4 separate regions of the Homo sapiens genome follow, and all the other regions are reported to be linked to region 4. The links are microRNA targets in miRTarBase. Many come from high-throughput screens and were not tested one by one. Region 4 holds a microRNA gene; each other region holds the end of a gene's coding sequence. Distances are between the middles of the regions.
Evidence for each region. Region 4 holds the annotated microRNA hsa-miR-660-3p (ACCUCCUGUGUGCAUGGAUUA, at 1,427-1,447, shown strand). A microRNA usually pairs through its seed, bases 2 to 8, with sites in the 3' UTR of a target mRNA and lowers its output. Matches are read on the target gene's strand: a 7mer-m8 pairs with bases 2 to 8, a 7mer-A1 pairs with bases 2 to 7 and ends in A, and an 8mer does both.

Region 1 (5,761 bases), 580 kb from region 4:
ACCTCGTGATCCACCTGCCTCGGCCTCCCAAAGTGCTGGGATTTCAGGCGTGAGCCACCATGCCCGGCCGGAACTGTTTTCTTAATAACATTTTCGGATTGTTCATTTGATCTTGTGTTTTAACCTTGTATCCTGCAACTTTCCTAAATTCATCCAGGCAGGTAGTTGTGAGCAACACGAGAAGAGCAAGAATATGCCTGGGATAAGGAAAAAATGAATTGAGTAGATCAGGACTATAATAATGGTTACCATGTACTGAATATGTTTTCAACAAGTCAGTACTTCCCATGCTGTAATATGTTCATGAATCTCCTGGAAATCTAGTTAAAATTCAGACTGCTATCACTGGGTTTGGGGTGGGCCTGGGATTCTGCCTAATAACTTCTTGGATTGTTAGTGGCTTTTATTTATTATTTTCAAGTTACAATAACTGCAAGCAAGATAATACTGTTCCCATTTTACAGATAAGAAAATGACCTCAGAAGTTGAGCTAGTAGCCCAGGTTCATTGAATAAGTGGCAGAACCAGGATTTGAACACAGTTCATTCTAATGCCAAAGCTGGACTCTTTCTACTCTACCACAATGGATATCTTGAGTAGAAGGAGGATAGTTGGAATGTGAACAGAATATGGATCACGAAAAAAGAAAGCTTTTCAATGTCAGAGTTGCTTCCTGGAATACATTTGAGTCTAATCTTTGAGGTTGCCTTGGAGAGCAGATCACCAAGGCCCTTGCTTTCCAGGGAGCTGAGCATGAAGGTGTGAGATTGGACTATCAGCTAGAAGTAAGATGAAAATACTAGACAGAATTCAAGATTGGAAGAAGTCTAGAAAGAATGGCTTACCTTCGATCAGGCTAGACTCCAGAACTAGACTCTGTATACTGCTTAGGTCTATACCTGAGATTACACCTATTGTTGACTTTTTCTGCATTCTAAACATGGGGTTAGACTGGATGTGATGTTGCCACTGAGTAACCAGAGAGGAAGAAATATATCAGTGAGCTAAAGGGCAGGGCTGTGATCCTGAGATCCTTCTGAGTAGAAAAATACCATGCTTCAATACTGTGATAACAACAGAAATAACCAATGGCTTAAACTCTGTACCCCCTACTCAGGATGGTCTTGAAATAGATGTCTAAAAGCTGTTCCCCTAAAAAGGCTATGGCAGATCCTGCTATTTAACTGGGGATGATGAATGGTATAGCATCAATACCATCCCTCAGAGGCCAGGGTAAGGGTTTAGGGATGTGGGTAAGGGTCTGGTCATATGTTTATCTGTGAAGGACTATGGATAGGTGACCAAATTCCTTTCCAGTACTTTTCAGCAGAATCTTTAGACTTCCATCACCTGAGTTAAAACACATGAGATTTTTTTTTGTCCTTAGCACCTTTTATTGAAATATGACCCTTGATGACAATCTGGCAGGCATATCTATGTCAGCCAAGAAGGGAGTGGTGGAGGACACAAATGCAGAAACAACAAGATTTGGAAAAAGAATAGCTTCACATGGGATAGATGACCCCCAACAGCTGTACAACCAACACTGGTTCTTCATCTATAGAAACTGTCCCCTGCCCCACCCCCCCAAAAAGATCTACTAATCTTCAAATAATATAATATGCTGTTGCAGAAATATTATTGGCATAGACGACTCCTCTGGCAAAGCTCCAAATGGGTGGAAGTGGCCAGAAATGGGCCCAGCTTCCTCCATCTGGGGCTTGCTACTGGCAGAGCAGCACTGTCAGGGAGGGTCGGGTTCAGGATGTGGCTCTGGTGTGCCTGGGCAGCTTTATGGCACATGAGGTTAAATGGAAAACAGAACCTGAACCTAACCTTGAAGGAGGCTTTTTATCTTTTCACCTCTCCTTTTCTTTGCTTCCAATTTCTTCCTTTCTAGGGCTTTATTTTCAGTGTCTCTGTCTTATTCTGTCAGATTCTACTTGGGCATTTACAGCTATATCCTGGTTGAGTCTCCAGCTGTGGGACTCAGGAAGATTCAATTATCCAGAGCCCTGGGAGGTGGCAGGAGGGGTTGGGGGGACATGTGATAGTAACTCATGCACTGACTTCTCTATCAGCCATCATGCTTGCCTATTACCCATGGGGGCCTGTATAAGTATTTGACGGGAGACAGCAGAAGTTAAGACTGATAACTGTCTTTGGGGATCTCCCTTGGCCTGCCTTCCAAACTGCTACTCACTGGCAGGCCTTGGAGGAGGGCTGAGCCCAGGAACTGAGAACAGGGGAGAGAGACTGCATCTCAAGTAATACTGGCAGTGTTGCAGCACCGTCACACACAATGAGACTGCCCTGGCAGGAGTGTGGCACGCCAGTGTCTGTTTAGCAGTTCACCTTTATCTACCAAGCTTCACTGCTAGATATACTTTTGGGGTTATTTTTTAAATGCTTTGGCAACTTTCCCTCCATGTGAAAATGAGCATCCTTGTGTTCTGATTCTAACTCTAGAAACTAATTTGAGATGGGATTAAGAACAAAAATAACAGAGTTAATAGTATTTTTGGTGTCATAAACTTAAGGTACAACCAATCACATGCTGACTAGAAAAACTCAAGACTATGGCCATAGTGTCCAGGTAAGTGACCGTTCTTTTCCCTAGGCCCATATTCCCAAAAAGGTGCTCTAGCCCACAAATTCTGAGAATGATGAAACATATCAGCCTCATCCTCCCAATACAGGACATCTCAATTTGCTCATTGTTTGTCCTAGAGCCTGCTCAGAAGAAAAGATGACAACTATGGCCTCCATTGAAAGCACTCCCCTACCTTCTCAATCTTGGCTGGCTTGTGTAAGCCTAGCCCCTGCAAGCCACCAGCCTTCCTGAATAAAGTAGAATCTTCCACTGGAGGGGAGAATGGCAGGGTTGCCATTCTAACAGTGTTTCTGGCAGCAGTACTAAGAGCAAACCCAGAGCTCCACAGAAAGGCTTACCCCACCCCCTACCCCAGGACACCCTGCTGGCCAAGATTCTCCCATTGTTTTCAAATACAATGAAGAGGAAATGGAAGCTAGTGACAAGTATTTGTAACAGCAGCAAAAGTTCCTTGGCAAATTCTTTGGTTGAATGAGACATCCCTGCTGCTACAGTTGACCTTCAAGGACCCTGAGGAACTCAGCAGTAACTAGAAGAGATGCCAGGCCTTGGCTGGGTTGTGTGATACCAAGGATTGGCCCCAGTTAGTGAGGAACAGGGAGCTAAGCTGGATAACAGGGCAGCATTTGGCCATAACCCCCTTCTTGCCATCGTCCACCTGAGGGCTGCTTTTCCAGCATAGAAACTAGCTACTGGTGTCAGGGCCTTGGCAACAGCAGCAGTTTTAGTTGTTTGTATGCCTAAGATCCTGGCTGGGTCTTCAATTGCTCTGGGGAGCTGGCTCTGGCTGGAGCTCCCAGCTACCTTGAGTTTTGGTTCCCTTGAGCCAGGCCACAGGCTGAGAAAGCAATGGTTAGAGGAGTTCCTTCTGAGCTCACCTCTACTGATCCCATAGCTTGGAGATGGTAGAGAAATGACTGAACCTTTCTCCATTTCAGGAGATTTCTTTGGTTTCAAAAAGAAATCAGTAAGAAAAACTTAAACCCTGCTGGGGAATGCTAAACTCAAGTCACTTAGACTTTAAGGGAAGCACAAGGCCAGGCCACAGTAGGGAGGCTCTGAGTTCAAGGGGAAAACTCCTTCCTAGACATCGGTAGCTATGGTGGGAACAATTCAACGCCTTGGCACTTGCTTACCTAGCCACGGTGGATTCAGGCTGATCTGCAGAAAATGCTTTCCTTCTGGGCTAACTTTTCCCTCTCCAACTTCCCTCTTCTCGCCTTATTAGTTAAAAAAGAAAAAAATAATCAAAACATAAAAATAAATAAAATCAAAAGGCCATTTAAAATATAACAATAAGAACCCCCTCCCCCAATAATGAAACCTACATCTAGAAGTCAGTTTTAGTAGAGCTATTAATGGCCCATATGGTGAAGCCCTGGGGTAGGCACCTGCGGTAACCCCCAGCAATGTAAAGGAAAGATGAAACAAGAGGTGGTAGGACCAAAGTCTTAGGACAGGAAGAGGGTCACACTAGCCAGGGCTAAGAGTAGGCCTCTTCCCCTGAACTTGCTGCTGGGAAAGGTAAGGGTAGAGCCTATTTAAACCTGGTTCCTTCCTAAGGGGCACCTGGGGGTACTCAACCTTTGCTTGCATTTTTTTCAGTGTAATTCCTCCCTCTGTGCTTTCCCCTGCAAAGCTTGGGTGAGGCCCTGAAACTGGTGCCAGGTGAATGCCCTCAAGGCAGCCAGCTCTCTGTGAGAAATGGCTGGCCACAAGCCCTGGGGCAGAGTAGAGCTGCAAGGCAGATTCCCTCTGAGCCTTTAGAGGCTGTTGATGATATGGGTGGGTGATGAGTACTTGATGTCTTTGGTGTCCTAGTACAAAGCAGAATGAAGGCACTTCCTTGGTTCTCTGTGCAGCAAGTACTTGCCCTTGGCAACTGTGGGAAGGAGAGTGTGGTTCTAAGATCACACCTTGCTGCAGCTCCCTTGGGTAGAAGCTTGTGGCTTCCCCAGGGTCTCCTAGCTGGTTAGGACCACTGCTAGGGAAGGGGTAGTGAGAGACATCCAGGGTAGAGGGCTGGAACAAACTGCTAATTGCTATCTACTTGCTGAGAAACTGCTAACAAAGAAGATTGAAAGCACTTCCCACATGGCTGGGCAGGGATGCTGTGGCAGAGTGCTGGTAGAATTAGAAATTGCTGGGCCCCAGGAGTAGACTCTCCCTGAGACATTTGAGTTGCTCTTCCCCGAGCTTGATCTTCTCCTCCAGCTCTCGCTGTTCAATGATGAGAGCAGATTTCATCTTGACAAAGTGCTGGTAATCTTGGAGCTGGTCCTGAGGCAGGTAGCGGGAGACCATGCCAAACACCAACTTCTCCCGGCGGTCCACGTGCTCCTTCAGCTCCTTGGCATCTGCCAACTGCCCCGTCAGCTGCTGCTTCTTCTCTATCAGTACCAACTGGGGAAGCAGAGGACCAAGTAAGGGCTCTCTCAATTACCAGGCATCTGTCCAACAGTGCTGCCTAGCAGTACTCCACCAGAGATGCTGCCACAAAGCAGCTATACATTCTGCTAATTAGTCAGTCCTAGATTTTCTGCCCTGAAGTCTACCTCCATGCAAAAGCCTTTGTTTCCTGTAGCAGGAGGGTAAACATGACAACAATTCTGGATAGGGGATGTGAAATTACCTCTTTCCATCTCTTTAACGCTGTCTTCAATGTAGGGACCACCACTGGGCTTGGGGTGGAGGAAGGCTCTGACAAAGCCAGCCTGTGTCCCTTTCACCTGGTGAACAACTGTCACTGTGGAGGTGCTTTCTGTATGATGTGTGTGTCTGTGTGAGTGGATATGTGTGAGTGTATGTGTCTGTGTATGTATGTATATGTATGTAGATATGTGCCTCTTGTTGTGGATTCAAAGGTATATCCAAAGCCACCTGTATAGGGAAAGGTGATGCAATTTTGGTTCAGGAGTATATGCATAGTGACCCAACCTGTGAAACTGACAGCTTTCCAATCTCAAATACTTGATGAGACCTCCCCCTCCAACTCTAGAGTGAGGCAAAACTGCTGCTGCTACTACTACTACTGGGAGCTAGCATTGATTCAGTGTTTACCCTGTCCCAGGCCCTGTTTTATGTAATTAACATAAACTAATTTAATTCTCACAATAATCCCATAAGGCAGGTAGTATGCTCACCTCA
Region 2 (5,761 bases), not on the chromosome of region 4:
GTCAGTGCCAAGCCGAGAGGCCAAGGGGCCCTGTCTCCCCAGGGGAGCCCCTGAGCTGTTTTAACAAATTCTTCTCTCTGTCTTCAGATGGCACCAGCAGGTCACCTGGACCCCACTCACAATCCTGGGACACCAGGACTACACACCTCCAACCTTGGGGCCCCTCCAGGTCCCCAGCTGCACCATTCAAACCCTCCCCCAGCGTCCCGGCAGTCCTTGGGCCAAGCGAGCTTAGGACCTACGGGTGAACTGGCCTTCAGTCCTGCCACAGGCGTGATGGGGCCCCCCAGCATGTCTGGAGCCGGGGAGGCCCCAGAACCAGCTCTGGACGTGAGTACCAGGCCCCATGCGGGGGAGTGCGTGGGAGCCAGGGCTAGAGGTGGTGTGTCTGTTCCAGGTGCGTTCTGGAAGGGAAGACAGTGACCCCTCAGAGAGCCGGTCAGATAAGGTCAACTAAATGCAGCTTTTGTTCATGAATTAGATACCTGGAGTAGCTGCGGGTGGGATGCGATGTACCACATTTGTGTTCATGAGGGGCCTGGATGCCGTACGGGCGGACGCAGAGTCTCAGAGGAGACTGCACTGGAAGCTGACAGCACGGTCCTTAGAGTCAAATTTCGTCTGTCCATTTGCTCAGTAGCCCTGGGTCTTGACTCACAGGTGGAATGGGAGTGCAAACTCAGTACATGAAGGACAGAACTGACTGTCCCTGGACCATAATAGAAACTCATTCTAGAAGTTCAACATGAAACTCATTCTAGAAGTTCAACATGAAAAAGTTAGGAAGAACAGCTCCAAGCAGAAAATCCTAGGGGCATGGAATTCCACCACCAGCATTCACCTTGGGGCATCACGGTGGGGATCCCCACGCAGGCTGATGCACAGAGGGAGTGTGGAGTGGCTGCACTCCCTCACATCCCGTTTCCTGGTGGTATTGAACAGCATGTTGCCAGCTGTTCTGGCCCCAGAGCAACCTTGCAGGGAGGTCCCAGGGGGTGGCGTGTGCCTCTTTGAGCACATGCAGGCCTATGGTGGGGCCCCGCACCCGGCCTGTGTGTGAGGAGGGGCTGCTCAGCATCCCCACTGTGCCTGGAGACAGGGCCGGGATGTGGTGACAGGATGGTCACTCAGGTGTGGCCAGTCAGTGACCAAAGCTGCTAACAGAGTTCACTTTGTCCTCAGCTGCTCCCGGAACTGACCAACCCTGATGAGCTACTGTCCTACTTGGGCCCACCCGACCTCCCTACGAACAACAATGACGACCTGCTTTCTCTGTTTGAGAACAACTGATCCTGTGTTTACCCCAAGCCCGGCGGGGACACGCTCACAGATGTCACCACAGCCCTGCCCTTCATGCCCAGCCCCATGGGACACCCGGTGGTCTTTCCCAAACCTCCCCCAAAACACACCTGGAGCCAGAGCCTTCTGCCGCCAGCCCTGCCCCTGAATTGGAAGCAGCCCTGTGCTCGATGGGAGGGGCTCCCAGGCCGGCAGCCCTTGCCACCTCCCTCTGCCAAGCCTGCTGCTGCAGAACGGTTTTTGCTGAGGTGCCCCTGCCCAGCCCTGTCCAGCCTTGTCCACACACACATCTCACGCCCCTGGTCTCACAGCCTCACACCTTGTCCTTCCACCCCTGCCTGCCCCCACCCAGCCTGCTTCTTGTCCAGCATTGATCCTTCTGTTTCAACAACTCCTCCACTGGGCAGAGCTGGGCATCTGGCAGGGCTGGCTCTGTCCCCTGGGCCTTTGGCTCCAGTGGCCCCTGTGCCCAGCAGTCCAGCTCTTGGAACCTCGCTGAATGGCAGCCTCTTGGGGGCCTGGAGCTCTGGCAGCCCAGCCGTGTGTGGTGTCAGGTTCCTCTCCCCACCCCAGCTTCAAGCAGAGGCCTCGGGGTGGGGGAGCTACAAAGCACAACAATGTACATAGTGTAGAAACACTAACAGCTGGGAGAGGGGAGCCAGCTGTCCAGCCAGCATGTTCCTGTTGTACAGCCCGGTCTCCCTGCGCGCTCTGCTCCTTCCCATGTGCAGACAGATCAGGGAGGAACCTCCAATGGGTGGGGGACAGTGAGCTTCGGCCTGGCCGAGGTGGGTGGGTGGGCTCTCAGATTCAGCTCTGTGTAAAGATTCTCTAGCGGGCTGCGCTCCCAAGTTCCCCTTCTCTGTGAAAGTGAAGAATTAGTACAGCTGTGTTTTTTAAAGCCACCTCTCTGTCTCCACCCCATGGGCCCACACCCAGGTGGGGGAGGAGGAAGCCACTGCATCTGTTGGCTCAGGGCCCCAGCCTGTGCGAGCAGGGCGCCTGGGCTGTTGTGTCTCCTGTCTGTGCCGATCTCTATTAAAGGACTCCCTCTTGGTGGGCCTGGCCGAGTCCCTCCTTTGTGCTCCCAGGGACTATTTTCTCCTCGTAAGCCAGCGACCTGCCTAAAGCTTGGGCTGTGCCTGCAAAGCTTGTGCAGGACCTGGGGGCCAGGTCGACCTTCAAGTGGCTTTTGGGGCCCCAGGTTGAGCTCTGGATGTTTCAAGCCAAGGCTCGGCTATTCCCGCCCCATAGTAAATTTCCTTTTCCCTGGAATTTTCCAAGTTGGCTTCAGCTGAAGAGCTGTTTTGTGAAGCATCCCAGGCTTGCCCAGGAGAGACATTTGCCACTATGTCACCTTATCTGGGCTTGCCCTGGGGCACTGAGACAGTTGTTTGGCAGCCCCAGCCCAGCCAGGGGCTCATCCTTCTCAGCTCTTGTCCCTGGGAGGCCTCTGCTTGTCACTTCCCAGAGATTGCAGAGGTGTGTCCTGCCTACCATCTGCCTGTCCAGCTTGGTGGGGGTCCGGGTCACCATTTCCTCCAGTCCTGGGCCCCATCCTTGAGGGCCTTCCCAGCCAGCCAGCAGGAGAGGCAAGAACTGGGGGAACACAGGAACCTAGGGGAGGAGGGGAGCGCTGGGCATCCTCAGGCTGGCGGCCAAGGCCTGCCCCTGGAGGCACTAGAGGAGGGCATCTGTCTGTGGGAGCCCAGAGGCTGCAGGGAGGAGGAGGAGGGAGGTATCTGGTGTGAGCGTTGCCCCTGCGACATTTGGGACCACACAGGTGGGCTTCCTTATTCCCTGACAAAGCCTCTGTTTCCAGCTCTTCCGCCCTCTCTGGATGAGGGAACAGAAGTGGAGGAAACAAAAGAAGCAGCAGCACGCACAGTCCTGTCGCTGGGTGCGGAGACAGCCTGGCAAAGTCCCACTCAGCCATGGCCTGATGCAGGCCCCAGGCCCTCCTTTCTTGGGTGTCAAATGACTGTGTCCTGGACATCTGATGCACCACCTGCCCTGCCTGTTGCAAACGTGATGCTCCCGGATGGAGTGGAGAAACTAGGAGACTGGGACAAGCAAAAGGCTGCAAACAACCCAGAAGCCCATCCTCAGAAGACTGGAGAAATGATTGAGGAATGCATGGGCACCGTGGCCCTGTGCTCCATCACAAACACCTCTCAGAAACAACGTGGGATGAAAAAGCAAGACAGTTCATACAGTATGATGCCATTTTTATAAAGCTCAAAACCAAATATGTGTGGAATTCATACCCAGGTGCTAAAGTCATCAGGGAGGGCAGGGAGTCAGTACAACACAGTGCTCACCCGTGGGGAGGGGACGGAGCTGTGCTTAGGGAAGAGCAGAGATGCTGGAGGTTTTGAACCTCAGGGTCAGTGGTGGCTTCGTGGGTTTCACTTTGTCGTACTTTCTGTTTCACACATTTTCTTGTGAATGTGCCAAGTATTACATAAAAACCAAAAGGCTGACCAGACTTAACAGTGCTCCACCCAATAGCAGCAGAACACACGTTTCTAAGTGCACAGGGAACGTTCTCCAGGACAGACCACACGTTAGTGCACAAAGCAAGTCTCAGTAAATTAGAGATCGGAATCCTGCAAACCACCTTCTCCAATCACAATGGAATAAAACCAGAAATCCATACCAGAAGGAAAATGAAAATTCACACATACATAGAAATTGAACACACTTTTTAACAGCCAAAGGGTCAAAGGAGAAATCACGAGAAAAATTAGGAAATAGAGATGGATGAAAACAACATACCAGAACTTAAGGAATGCGGCAAAAACTGCTCTGAGGGAAATTTATAGCTGCAAATGCCAACATTTAAAAAGATGCGACATCTTGGCTGGGTGTGGTGGCTCACGCCTGTAATCGCGGCACTTTGGGAGGCCGAGGCAGGCAGATCACCTGAGGTCAGAAGTTCGAGACCAACCTGGCCAAAGTGGTGAAACCCTGTCTCTACTAAAAACACAAAAATTAGCCAGGCGTGGTGGCTCACACCTGTAATCCCAGCTATTCACGAGGCTGAGGCAGGAAAATCACTTGAACCCAGGAGGCAGAGGTTGCAGTGAGCTGAGATCATGCCATTGCACTCCAGCTTGGGTGACAGAGTGAGACTCTGTCTCAAAACAACAACAAAAAAATTCCTAGAAAGATACAAATGACCAAAATTGTCCCAGGAAAAATAGAAAATCTGAACAGGGCCAGGTGCAGTGGCTCACACCTGTGATCCCAGCACTTGGGGAGAACTAGTTAGGAGGATGGCCTGAGGCCAGGAGTTCGAGACCAGCCTGGGCAACAGAGACCCTGCCTCGACAAAATCTTTAGAAATCAACCAGGTGTCATGGCACGTGCCTGTAGCCCCAGCTACTTGGGAGGCTGAAGCAGGAGGATAGCTAGAGCCCAGGAGTTCAAAGCTGCAACGACCTATGACAGCACCACTGCACTCCAGCCAGGAATGAGGCAGAGACAGAGACCTGACCTCAAAAAAAGAAGAAAAAGGAAAAAATCTGAACCAACCTAAAACACATAGGTAGAACCAGTCATCAAAAGCTTCCCAACAAAAGAAAAGCCCAGGACCAGATGGTGAATTCTACCAAATGCTAAAGAATGGACATAAATCCCCAAATTCTCCCAAACATTGTGGAGGAGAAAACACTTCCTAATTCCCCGTATTCATGTGAGGGGCCAGCTTCCCTCCCATTCTGCCCCAGCTTCCTCCAGTGGCCTTCCCCAGCAGGCAGTGGCCCCCACTTCTGACCCCTGTAACTCTACCCACTGTGGGTTTCCTCCTTGCCACCCTTCCAGCCTTCCAGGCTTTGGGGGCCATTGAGACAGCCCATCCTGCCTGCCCTGAGTGGGAGGGCAAGACATGACTGGCTCAGGATGGCCTGTCACCCAAGTTGCCTCAAAGAAGCCAGGGACATCAGTGCAGTCGGATGCACAGTGCAGTAGGTTTTGGTAAGTGCACACGCGTGTGTACCTGCCCTTCCAAACCTCACAGGAGAGACCAACCCACACCCCACCCCAGGTCATCACTGTTCTGGCCCCTGTCACCAGAGATTAATTTTGCCCTTTCTGAAACTTTATGTCAGTGAATATTAGAGTCTGTGTCTTGTTGTTAACTGATCCTTAAAGCGTCTGTGTTTATTTTCTTTTTTTTTTTTTTTAAGACGGAGTCTTGCTCTGTCGCCCAGGCTGGAGTGCAGTGGCATGATCTCAGCTCACTGCAACTTCCGCCTCCCGGGTTCAAGTGATTCTCCTGCTCAGCCTCCTGAGCAGCTGGGATTACAGGTGGCGCGCCATCACGCCTGGCTAATTCTTGTAATTTTAGTAGAGATGGGGTTTCACCATGTTGGTTAGGCTGGTCTCGAACTCCTGACCTTGTGATCTGCCTGCCTCGGCCTCCCAAAGTGCTGGGATTATAGGCTTGAGCCACTGTGCC
Region 3 (5,761 bases), not on the chromosome of region 4:
TGTGCCAGCTGTTGCACACTCACCTCCACACCCAACTCACAGGAAGCAAGGCTGGGAAGGAGGGAACTGGCCCCAGGCCACACAGATGCTGCGAGTTGGGATTATGATCGGGTGCAGTGGCTCACACCTGTAATTCCAGCACTTGGGGAGGCCAAGGCGAGTGGATTGCTTGAGCCCAGGAGTCTGAGACCAGCCTGGGCAACATGGTGAAACCCCATCTCTACAAAAAAAAAATACAAAAATTAGCTGGGCGTGGTGGTGCGTGCCGGCGGTCCCAGCTACTCAGGAGGCTGAGATGGGAGGATTGCTTGAGCCTGGGAGGTCGAGGCTGCAGTGAACTGTGATCACGCCCCTGCACTCCAGCTTGGGTGACAAAGCAAGATACTGTCTCAAAAAACTCGAGTTGGGATTTCACCCTGCGTGGTCCAGCACTGAACAGCGTTCACACCTCGGTCAGCTCAGCCCCAAAAACGGGGAAGGCCGGGCGGGGTGGGGACGGCATGCGGGCAGGCCCGTGGCTTTTCGGAGGAGTCCACGGGCTTCCGGCCACTGTGCAGGGGCGCTTTGCTCTCTGCTCCCAGACAGACCCTGTCTTGCTCACAGCTTCCTGCAGGCTCCTCTGAGAGTCCAGCAAAGCTGGGCGAGATGTCTCCCAGGGAAGGGGAACACTGACAGCCGTGCTGCTCTCTGCTCCTTCCACTGGAAGGGAGAGGCTGCATGGACAGGGGGCTCCGGGTGGGGCAGATGGGGACACTCAGGACTGCGGCCTGACCCTCAGAGACTGAGCCCAGGACGTGGTCACCTGACCAGCACCTCCCCCGTGGCTGTCCCAGCCTCACGGTCACGGCCCAGCAGTCCGGGAAAGCCACTTACACGTAGTGCCCGGATCCTGACCCCGGTGAGGGACAGGCAGGGTCCCCTGGGATTGGGGGGGGGGTGTGGTTCTTGGCCCAAGAAAGCCCCAGCTGAAAGCACCAGCTACGCAACGAAAGGGTCTGAAACCAGAAAATTCTTTATTGCAAAGGTACAAAAGCAGTCACAGCAGCAGGACGCACGGCAATAAATTAGGTGGTGGCCGCAGGGACGGGGCAGGGCGGCGGCGGCCAGACACGGGCCCACATGTGATCTGTTTTCAATAATTTATATCATGATAAAAAGCAGCACAAAAAATAAATAATGAAATGGAACTGCCAAGTAGCACAGAAGCCAGGGTGAGGCGGTGTGGCGGCGTGGCGGCATAGGGGGCCGGGGTCCCCACGCCCTGGAAACGCAAAGACCTGGATCTCTTTGGGAAGCCGGAGGCACGGAGACAGAAAACAAACCCACGTGACAAAGAGTCCCTCGTCTTTTTCTTAAATAAAAAAATCCATATATTAAATCATGACAATGAAATTTCAACAATCTGAAAAGAAAAGCAGAACACACCGTGCTTCCCCGGCCCAGCTCTGGGCGGTGACAGCGGCTCCGTCCACCCTGGGGACCAGGGAGTCCCTTCTCCAGCAAAGCACTGCAGGCCAAGGGCAGGTAGAAGCCCACGGCCCACAAGACGTGGACACCAAGAACCCCAAGACGGGACAGAACCGGCCACCCGCTGCGGCCTGTCCTGCGGGGCCCAGCTGCCTGGTACAGTCCGTGGGGAGATGAAGGGGGACGGCGGGCAGCCCGGGCCTCCGCTTTGCTCCCAACTCCCACCTGTGCCCGTGCCCCCGGCTCTGCTCTGATAGATTTACAGTATCAAACTGGAAAAGAAAGATTGTTACGAAAAATCTGTAGATAAACTGTGAATATAATTTTATATCTCTATATATTTTCTGTTTCTCTCTTTAAATATCCCCCTGGTCCTTATGACATCCAATATGGATTACCTACCACGGCCACGGGGGCAACGGCTGTTTGGGAACACGCAGGCCTTTGCTCTGTAGGGACCCAGTGGTCCTGGCGGGCCTGCAGCTTCCCACTCAACTTCTAACAGTAGACACAGAACCAAGTCGCAGCCCCGGGGCTGTCTGTCCTCTGCCCTCCCAGCGTGGCTGGCACCCGCCTGGGCTCTGTAGCTGGTGGGGGCTGTTACTGGGTGGGCAGGGGCAGCCGAGAAGGAGCCAGGGCCCCAGGCACCACCTTGCAGGTCTTATGTGGCGGCCCCCGGCCGGCGGCTCACATTCCGCCAGCTCCCCCAGGCAGGGGCTCCGCAACCCCCGCGGCTCTCGCTGCAGAGACCCCAGTCACAGGAGGGACCCTCAAGGCGGCTCTCCAGGAAAAGGAAGCCCAAGGTGGAGTGCCAAGCCCACTGGTGCCTCAGTGCTCTTGGAAGGAGGAGCAGGCAAAGGCTCCGGGTGAGGACTGAGTGCTGAGGCCAGCCACACCTGCAGCCCGTGGCTGTGCTCCTGGGGGTGTGCGCGCAGGAGCCACGTCCACGAAGCTCTCCTGGACTGGTGCCTGCTGCCTCCCCACCCGCCGCGCCCTCTGGAGTGCCAGGCTCACTCCTGAGCTCTTCTACAAGCCAGCTGCATCCTGGTCCTGCCCCTCAAGGCTTTCCACCTGCTCTCGCACACGGCTCCCGCCTCCTCCCACCACTCCACGCAACGTCCTCCTCCTTCCACCTCCACATCCATGTCCACCAACATCCCCCAGGCTGCACCCCCTCTCCCTAGACTGCAGCAGCCCTTCCCCTCGCCAGGCCCCCAAAAGACCTCCTCGTTCCCCCTGCACTGACCACAGTTGGTGAGAAGTAGCTCCAGGACACACAGCCTGAGTCCTGCTCACCGTCAAATGATGGGGCGCTCCTGCCTGTGTCCGCTGAGATCCGGGACGGCCTGTGGGGTCGGTGTCTGGGGGGCCGGATCCCGTGGGCAGGGGCTTCTGCGCTGTGCTGCACGACCTCCTCGGGTCACCAGAGCACAGGGGAGACCTCACGACGTGTGAGCCACTCTCTCTGCCATGTGTGCCCACAGGCCCTCCCCCAGTGAACACCAGCAAGCTGCACCCCCTCAGCCCTGCTGCTTTGATGGCAGGCGTGCGTGCACACACACAGACACCACCCCACGCAGGCGACCTCCCACACCGTGCCCACTCACGCAGGCCCCTGCTAAGGCAGACGCGGATCACGGGCACTGCAACGGGACAGCTGGAAGGACGGAGCTGCCGACACACCATCCATGCTCCTCCCCGGGGACTGCGGAGTCGGTCAGGGCAGTGAGGGGCTCCCGCACCGGCTGGGAGGCCGTGGCAGGACAGGTGTCGAAGGCTGCTTACAGCAGGAGTGGAAAACAAGCCCCATGCTAGACCTGACCACAGGGGCCTGACTCCTGGGGCCGTGTCTTCCGGCAGCCCCCACAGAGGACGCGGAACTTCCCGAGGGCCTTTCCATTATATGTCCCGACTCCCACGGGTGCAAGATACCAATTCCCACACACAGACACATCCTGCGGGGAGCAGGTGGCGGGCGTGAGTGTGTCTGTGGACCGGCGTGCAGCTCTGGGCCCACGGGAGCCCACTCTTCACCCTGCAATACAGTCTCTTCCTGGTGTGAGCTGCCTGCGCCCGAGGGGCCTGCGCTTGGACTCGGATGTCGAGAGTCTGCATCCCAGTGACAGGTACGAGGGGTGTGCCCCCACCCGCCTGCCCGCCGCCCGCCGCCCGCCACCCCCCGCCCCCGGCCGGCACTAGGATGCAGCCGAGAAGGGCACGGAGGTGGAGGAGAGCTCGGTGGACTTGACGATGGTGATGACGCTGGTGGTGGCCACCTTGGAGGGCGCCACAGGTCCCCGGGCCACGGTGCGCGCGAAGGTCTGCAGCGCCTCGTACTTGGAGCGCAGGGCGTCCAGCTCCAGCCGCATGCTGCTGTTCTCACGCGCCAGCTTCTCCACCTCCTGCTGCAGCTCCACGCGCTGCCGCTCCAGCTCCTCCTTCTGCGTCACCCGCTTGATGCGGCAGCTGGCCGCGTAGCCGCGGTTCTTGAGTGTGCGCCGACGCTGCTTCAGGCGGGTCACCTCCTCCTTGGTGAGACCCCGCAGGTGCTGGTTCAGCTCCCGCACCGACATGGACACCAGCTCATCATCGCTGAGCACCGGGGCGTTCTCGCCCGCCTCCTTCTTGACCTGGGGGGCCACAGTGCGGGGTCAGCGGCGGGAGAACGTGGGGTGTCTGCCTGGGACCGACACTGGGGTGGCCAGGAACCCAGCGGTGCCCCTGCACGCCTGCGCTCTCAGGGCTGGCCTTCGCCATCCGCACCAGGGACCACAGGACACTGTGCACGCAGGCAGCCCATGTGACAGCTGTGGCCCCACAGGACCCTTTCTGAACGGGAAAAGCCAGTGGTGACATCGGTCACTCCTGGTTACCGACAGCCTCAGAGCCCATGAGGACCCAGAGTGCATGGGTCCTGCTGCTGGGACTGAGCCGGCCCACAGGCACACGCCATTGTGGAGGCGGCAAGCGCCAGGCACAGGTGGGCTCGGGCCTTGGGAGCTGGAGCATCGCGTTCACCAGAGGCCACGCTGGCCACGCTGCCCACGCCTGGAGCCAGGGGATGAGCTCATGCAGTAGCGCCCGGCGGACACACAGCCCAGGCGGGAAGGCAGCAGACCCTGCCACGCCCTCAGCCTGGGAGTCATCGCCTGGAACCACAGTCCCCGATCCTGACTCCACCTCTCCTGTGAACATCCCTCGGCCACAGCAGCCCCCCTCCTCCTGGCAACAGGGAGGCCTCCATCACAGGCTCAGGACGGCCCTGGGATAGCAGGGGCTGTCGGGCCGGGGGCCTTTCCCACGCCTGTGCTTGAGACGGGGCCTGCTTGGAACCAGCCTTACCTTTAATGCCTTATTCGGTTTGGGATTAGTCGTCATAACCCGGGCACGGTCACCAGGACAGAGCTCCCTGGAACTCGTAGCTGGAAAACATGGACAAGCAGAGAAGCCAGCACAGGTCAGGGCCGGCAGCGCCGGACAGGGTGCCCACCTCCCATGCAGGGATGCTTCTCAGCCCGGGGTGGACAGTCACAGCACCATGAAAACAAGACGGGGCACCATCCGGGCCCAGCCCGTCCTGAGGGGCTTCCCAGGGGGTGAGGCATCCTGGCCCGGCCTCTGTCCCTGCCTGAGGGTTCAGGGAAAGGTCTGGCTGCACCTCACACTCTAGCACACTCCACAGAGCGGCTGGGACCCCACCCCAGGGCCTGGCAGCCAGGTGCGGCCCCCTGCTGCCCTGCAGACCTGGGCTGCAGCCGCCGGCACTGTGGGGTGACCAGCAGGCGCCGGCAGTGGCTGCTTCCTGTTCTGACTCTCCCTGAGGTCAGAGAAGACGTCTGCACCTGCACAGCACAAGGTGCCCCGTACCGAGGACCAAAGTGACTGGTGGCAAAACCTCCCTCCCTCAAGACAGCTGTGCCGGCCCCGAGGAGTGTGGGGCCCCGCTGGACAGCGACCCTACACTGGCAAAGGCTCCGGTGCTCCGGACCCAGCCTGGATCCCCGAGAGGGGGCCTCTGGGGAGCCCCTGACATCGCCATCCCCCACGGTGGGCCTGGGTGGAGGCCCAGCCGCCCTCCCGCCCCGCCCTCCCCACAGGCCACGGGACACCTACCACGGCCCTGGCCGCTGCGGCTGTGACATCACCACCTCCACCTAAGCTGCCCCCGAGCGAGGACCCTGCGGCCCAAGGGGGTGTGGGGTTCCTGAGGGGCGGCAGGTCCGGGGGCCGCAGCCAGAGACCAGGGAGGTGGGGGAGCCGCCGCCCTGCCGAGCATTTGACCGTCTGGCGGGAG
Region 4 (5,761 bases):
CCCCCTCTTGAATCCTGGTACCTGGATGCAAGTGCTGTGTCAATGCGGTGCACCCAGGCAAGCATTCCACGGCTGAGCCTTTTCTGCATAGAGCGAAGAACACCTGTTTATAATCCCCATCCTTCATTCATTCCCACCTTTAACAAGCAGGGGTGGCGCTCCTGTCATGCACCAGACATGGAGAGACAGGGTGGTCAAGAAAGACACAGAACTCATACTCACATGCCTAGTGAGCATGTTTAAGAGAAGGAACTTCCGTTGCCCACATTGTTCATGCATACGTATGTAGCAGAGAGTGAGTCTTCCCATCATCCCCTCTCCAACCCCCCAACAGTGCTCAGCTAGAGAACTACAAAAGGTGTGTCTCCCCTTACACAGAGCTGCAGCCACAGTGTGCATAGGATAATGAGTGTCATTAGCAGCATCTTCTCACTCATGTCTGGTGTGCAAGGCAATAGGCTTTCTACTTGCTGCTTATGCCACCAGAGCTTGAAGGAAAGTGGCCCTACTTGTCAGTCATCTCACACATGCATATGAAGAAAAGACACTTCACCTTTGTATGGTCATAGGAAAATCACCTGTGAGCCAGAGAGTGCTGTTTCTTTTGTACATACACACAAACACAATGGATTTGAAGATGCTCGAGCCTTCTATTCAGGTTGTCCCTCTCTTTCATTCTTCGTAGTTGGGTACAAATGCTATTCCAGTCCATTGCCTTGTACAAAAATTCAGAGAGGGAATCTCATCCATGTTTAAAAGTGTAGAGTCTTTGCATCACCCCTCTATGTCCCATTATTTCATTTCTTTAAGTTATGTATAGAGCAGTGGTTCTCAGTGTGGTCCCTGGGCCAGCAGCATCTGTATCACCTAGGAGCTTGTTCAAAATGCCAATTCTTGGGCTCATCCCTGACCTACTACACCATAAACCATGGAAATCTGTACTTTACCAAGGCTCTCAACTGATTCTGATGCTCACTTAAGTTTGAGAATCACTGATTTAGTATAAGTGCTAGCTAGGGGCAGTGATAAGCTAGTCAGGTGAAGGGTGGAAGAGAATGAGCTCCTGCATTGCTCATGTACGTTCCCAATGCCGAGTCCATGCAGACTGTGGCAGGGAAGCCATCATTTCATTACTGTCTCCACCTCCTCCATAACCACACATTCAGTGAGCACATGAGGCTAAGTGAACACACAACAAGTACTTTATTAGGGAATAGACTTGGCACTGCTTCTCCAGGCGTGCACCTGACACTTTAATCTCAATCTGTCTCTCTCTCAATCAATCAATCAATCTCTCTCCTCTCTCTCTCTTTCTCTCTTTCTGTCTTTCTTTCTCTCTCCTCCCCCACCCCCCTCCCATGTGCAGAAGAATGAACTGCTCCTTCTCCCATACCCATTGCATATCGGAGTTGTGAATTCTCAAAACACCTCCTGTGTGCATGGATTACAGGAGGGTGAGCCTTGTCATCGTGAATCTTCTGCTGAACAATCCAAGTAGCCCGTGTTTATTGCGCACTTTTGATGTGCCATGAGCTGTGCTGGGAGTACCCTGCTAAATAATGGACAGTGTCTCTCTCCGGGACTTCCTATCTAGTGGAGGTATTAGGTGCCTAGACTTCCCCAGGCCTAGGCAACAGACACAGGTGTGTCAGGAATTGAGCCTTCTCATTCTCTTATGAATACACATGCTCACATTGTGCATGCATGTGCACACACACATGTGTAAGTGTAGAAACATTTCTGTACAAAGCTGAAAGGAAGGAGCCTTATTATCTAAACTTGCCTGCAAGTTTCCTTGCCACACACACTCAGATGCATGCCTGGTGTGCAGGTGCCTGGACTTTGATTTTTGCTTGCCCTCTCCTAGCCTTGCAGCCTAGGCACAAGTGCTGTCTTAGCAGTGCAATGGGCTTGTGCAAGGATACCAGCTTGTGAGCCTTGCCTATGTGTAGGACAGAGCCTGTCCATCCCTTCTCTTTCCTTTGTTCATTCTTTCAGTCAGTCATTTGTGTGTGCATGTTTTTGGTCCATTCATTTATTCATCCCTTTAACAAATTTACTGAATTCCTGCTGTTTGGGAATGCCACAGTAAACTAACCTGTCAGAGATGCCGACCTTACTGTCTAGCAGGCTCATGGAGAATAAGCATCCTCATGTCATCCAACTTCCTGTGAATACATGGGCTCAGGGTGCCAGAAATCAGGCTTTTCTTTATTCCCTCCCACAGACATGGGTACCTGTGCAAATATATGTGGTGTGCACATCCTGAGCCTGCTGCTCTGCTTCCCCTTGTATCCTTGCCACCTAAATGTGCATGCTGTCTCAGTGCAGCACCTATTCCAGGACTCTCAGAGGGGCCTTTTTCTGCCCATAGACAGACAAAGTGCCTGTGAGTCACACTTCCTCCTCCCTCTCCTTCCCCTCTACCTCCCTTTCACAAGTATTGAGCACTTAGTACATGCTAACGCTGTGCTGCCAGGGCAGTGGGCATATGGTATCACACAAGATGGACTTGGTTCTTGCCTCAAAGAATATGTGTAGGAGACTTGACTTTTTGTCACCTAATATTCCTGCACGTGCTGAGTTAGTGTGGGCCACAACATGGGACTTCTTATTGACACCCTCTCCCAACATATACACAATGCAAGACTCTCATTCCTGTTCTCACACAGAGCTGTGTAACAGAGAACCTTCTCTGCTTCGAGCACGGCAGGTGCCCAAGCCTTCTGCCCTGCTCCCCCTCTCTAATCCTTGCTATCTGGGTGCTAGTGCTGGCTCAATGCAATGCACCTGGGCAAGGATTCAGAGAGGGGGAGCTCAACTGTACCAAGAAGGACAGAGAGCCTAGACATCACCCCTCCCACCCTCCCCTGTCATAGTTTTTGAGTGATGGGTGTGTGTTGGGGAAGCACAGAACAGAATAGTTAGGGACTTCAGGTGCTCTGGTGGGCTTGTCTGTGTATTAGAATAAATGTCCTTATTAAATAATGTCCATGTATGCAGGTATCCAGAGTGAGACAGTGAGCTTTCTCTGTGTTCCCCACCTGCTGTCCACACACAGGGTGGTGGGCGGGAACCAGAGCCTTCTGATTTGCTCCCTCACTTCCTTCCAACCTAGATGTGAGTGCTGTCTCAAGTATTAAGCCAAGGATTCAATGAGATGGAGCCTTGCCTACCTATATGTATATATATGGACTGAGTGCATATATGTCTCTTTTCTTGCCTTCCTATATCTTGAGTTTCTAGAGTGTGACAGATACTCTTTTTAGTGTTAAGGATGCAGTGACAAACGAGAGTCAAAATCACTGGATGTGCTCTCTGATGGGCAGCTTTAGAAGAAAAATTCAGACGGGCACAAATGATGGGGGCCAAAGAGAGAGTCTTCCTATTCCCCCCACTCTGTCCCCTCTGAGGACAGGGAGATGCACACATTCATGAAGATTTACACTTACAGAATGTATAGGAGTTTGAGCTTATAAGCTGCCCTTTATCTTCCAGGACATCCTGAGTAGAACTGTGAGCTGCCTTTAGATGTCTATTACAGACTCTTCTTGAATTAGAGGGGGTGAAGAGCAAGGGACCCTTCTTATTGCTGATCTTGTATGCACCCCACACAATATGGAAATGAGAACAGCCTATATCTTTATATTACCTTACTTTAGTCAAATAGAGATGGACTATACATGTCTCTGTTTCAGTCTATCGCTCTCTCTGTCCGTCTCTCCATCTCTCTCTCTCTCTCACCTAGGGAGTACAGGTGCCCATGATCTGATTCACTCCCCTCCTCCCATCCTTAGCGCCTGAGCCTGAGTGCTTTCTACTGTGACCTCAGCAGTATTCTTCAGTTGTTACTCTCTTCTTAGCTAAGCTGATCTATTCATTCCTCCCCATCTTATCATTTTTGCTCATTGCCCATTGCAAATTTATAGTGTTCAGGTCAGCGTAGCAATACAGTATTATAAATAGTGGTGACAGAGACAGAAAGAGACACACACTCCATTTCAGTCCTCAAGTTCTTAAACATTTGGGACTTATAGATTCTGATCCTTGGTCCTTCTTCTCTCCCAGATTCTCCCAATCTAACCTGCAGTAAAGATTCAGGTTATTTAATATGTGCTCCTTATCTTTTGTATACTCTAAAATCTCATTTTGGTTACTGCTCAGCCTTAGTCTTATTTTATCAGACTTTATACCTCTCTTGATGCCCAAGACTAGCAGCATCAGCATCCTCCAGGAACTTGTTAGAAATAAACTCTCAGGCCTCACCTCAGACCTAGGTAATCAGAAAGTCAGGGGTGGGGCCCAGCAATCTGTGTTTTAACAGCCCTCCAGGTGATTCTGATGCACACTGAAGTTTGAGAACCATTGGTTTAAATGACTTAAAATTTCTATTCTGTCATTACTAGGGGGATTTCTGTGTTACACAGGATGATTTTTAGCATCAAAATTTCCTTATGTGTAAATGGCTCTTTTAGTTTCTTTTCATATTTTAAAAATTCATAGACTTTTTTGAGCAGTTTTAGGTTTACAAAAAGATTGAATGGAAAGTATAGAGTTGTTATATATTCTCGAGACACCCCAGTTTCCGCTATTAACATCTTGCATGAGTGTTGTACACTTGTTAAAATTGATGGGCTAATGTTGAGACATTATTATTAAATAATAGTATAATTATAATGTATTATAACTATTATTAAATAATAGTTTAAATATAATTATTAATGTAAACCATAGTTTACATTAGAGTTCCCTCTTTGTGTTATATACTCTATGGGTTTTGACAAGTGTATAATGACATGCATGACCATTATAGTATCATACAGAATAGTTTCACTGCCCTAAAATTCCTCTGAGTTCTGCCTATTTATCCCCCCTCCCCCACCCTAAACCCCTGGCAACCGCTGATCATTTTTCTGTCTCCATAGTTTAGCCTTTTCCAGAATGTCATATAGTTAGAATCATACATTATGCAGCCTTTTCAGAATGGCTTATTTTACTTAGCACTATGCATTTAAGGCTCCTCATATCTTTTCATGACTTGATAGCTCATTTCTTTTCTTTCATTTTTTTCCCCATTTATCCCATATAGTAACCAGCTTATTTCTTTTTATCACTGCATAGTATTCCATTGTCTGGAGGCACAAAGTTTATTTATCCTCACCCACTGAAGGGCAGCTTGGTTCCTTCTACATTTTGGCAATTATGAATAAAGCTGCTATAAACGTTTGTGTGCAGGATCTTGTATGGACATAAGTTCTCAACTCACTTAAGTAAAATACCAGGAAGTGTTGCTGGATCATATGGTAAGACTATGTTTAATTTTGTAAGAAACCACCAAACTGTCCTCCAAAGTGGCTGTACCATTTTACATTTCCATCAGCAGTGAACGAGAGTTCCTGTTACTCCATATCCTCATCAACATTTGGTTTTGTTAGTGTTTTGGATTTTAGGCATTCTAATAGGAATGTTTTCTTATCCTTGAGCTTAAAGAGTTTCTTACTTATTTTAGATACAATCCCTTTCTAAGATATGTCTTTTGCAAATATTTTTCCCATGTGTGATTTGCTTTTACATTCAATTAACAGTGGCTTTTGCAGAGCAGAAGTTTTTAATTATAATGAAGTCCAGTCTATCAATTTTTTCTTTCATGGATCATGCTTTTGGTGTTGTATCTAAAAGGTCACCACCAAACCTAAGATCACTTAGATTTTAGCCTACATTATTTTCTAGGAGTTTTATAGTTCTGTGTTTTACATTTAGG

Region 1: the mRNA of SHROOM4 is a reported target of hsa-miR-660-3p. The part of its 3' UTR that is shown has no 7-base or 8-base seed match.
Region 2: the mRNA of ZMIZ2 is a reported target of hsa-miR-660-3p. Seed matches in the 3' UTR shown: 7mer-A1 at 2,246-2,252, 7mer-A1 at 3,023-3,029 and 7mer-A1 at 3,026-3,032.
Region 3: miRTarBase lists MAFK as a target of hsa-miR-660-3p. Seed matches in the 3' UTR shown: 7mer-A1 at 2,589-2,595 and 7mer-A1 at 2,586-2,592.

What each region holds. Positions count from the first base shown.
Region 1 is chrX:50,591,948-50,597,708 of GRCh38, forward strand. SHROOM4 (shroom family member 4) reads right to left here. Exons shown (of 9, transcript NM_020717.5): 9 at 1-5,017. The coding sequence ends at 4,748. Among named protein-coding and RNA genes, the nearest start is that of DGKK, 120 kb to the left of the region's middle.
Region 2 is chr7:44,766,334-44,772,094 of GRCh38, forward strand. It overlaps ZMIZ2 (zinc finger MIZ-type containing 2), which reads left to right. Exons shown (of 19, transcript NM_031449.4): 18 at 88-330; 19 at 1,183-3,548. The coding sequence ends at 1,290. Among named protein-coding and RNA genes, the nearest start is that of ZMIZ2, 20 kb to the left of the region's middle. RefSeq lists enhancers at 1,651-2,177, 2,012-2,151.
Region 3 is chr7:1,538,277-1,544,037 of GRCh38, reverse strand. It overlaps MAFK (MAF bZIP transcription factor K), which reads right to left. Exons shown (of 3, transcript NM_002360.4): 2 at 4,810-4,889; 3 at 995-4,097. The coding sequence starts at 4,845. The coding sequence ends at 3,663. It overlaps TMEM184A (transmembrane protein 184A), which reads left to right. Exons shown (of 9, transcript NM_001097620.2): 9 at 1-1,803. Among named protein-coding and RNA genes, the nearest start is that of MAFK, 10 kb to the right of the region's middle. RefSeq lists an enhancer at 4,659-5,601.
Region 4 is chrX:50,011,866-50,017,626 of GRCh38, forward strand. It overlaps MIR660 (microRNA 660), which reads left to right and starts at 1,376; the gene lies at 1,376-1,472. All of the region lies in intron 3 of CLCN5 (chloride voltage-gated channel 5), which reads left to right. It overlaps MIR502 (microRNA 502), which reads left to right and starts at 2,733; the gene lies at 2,733-2,818.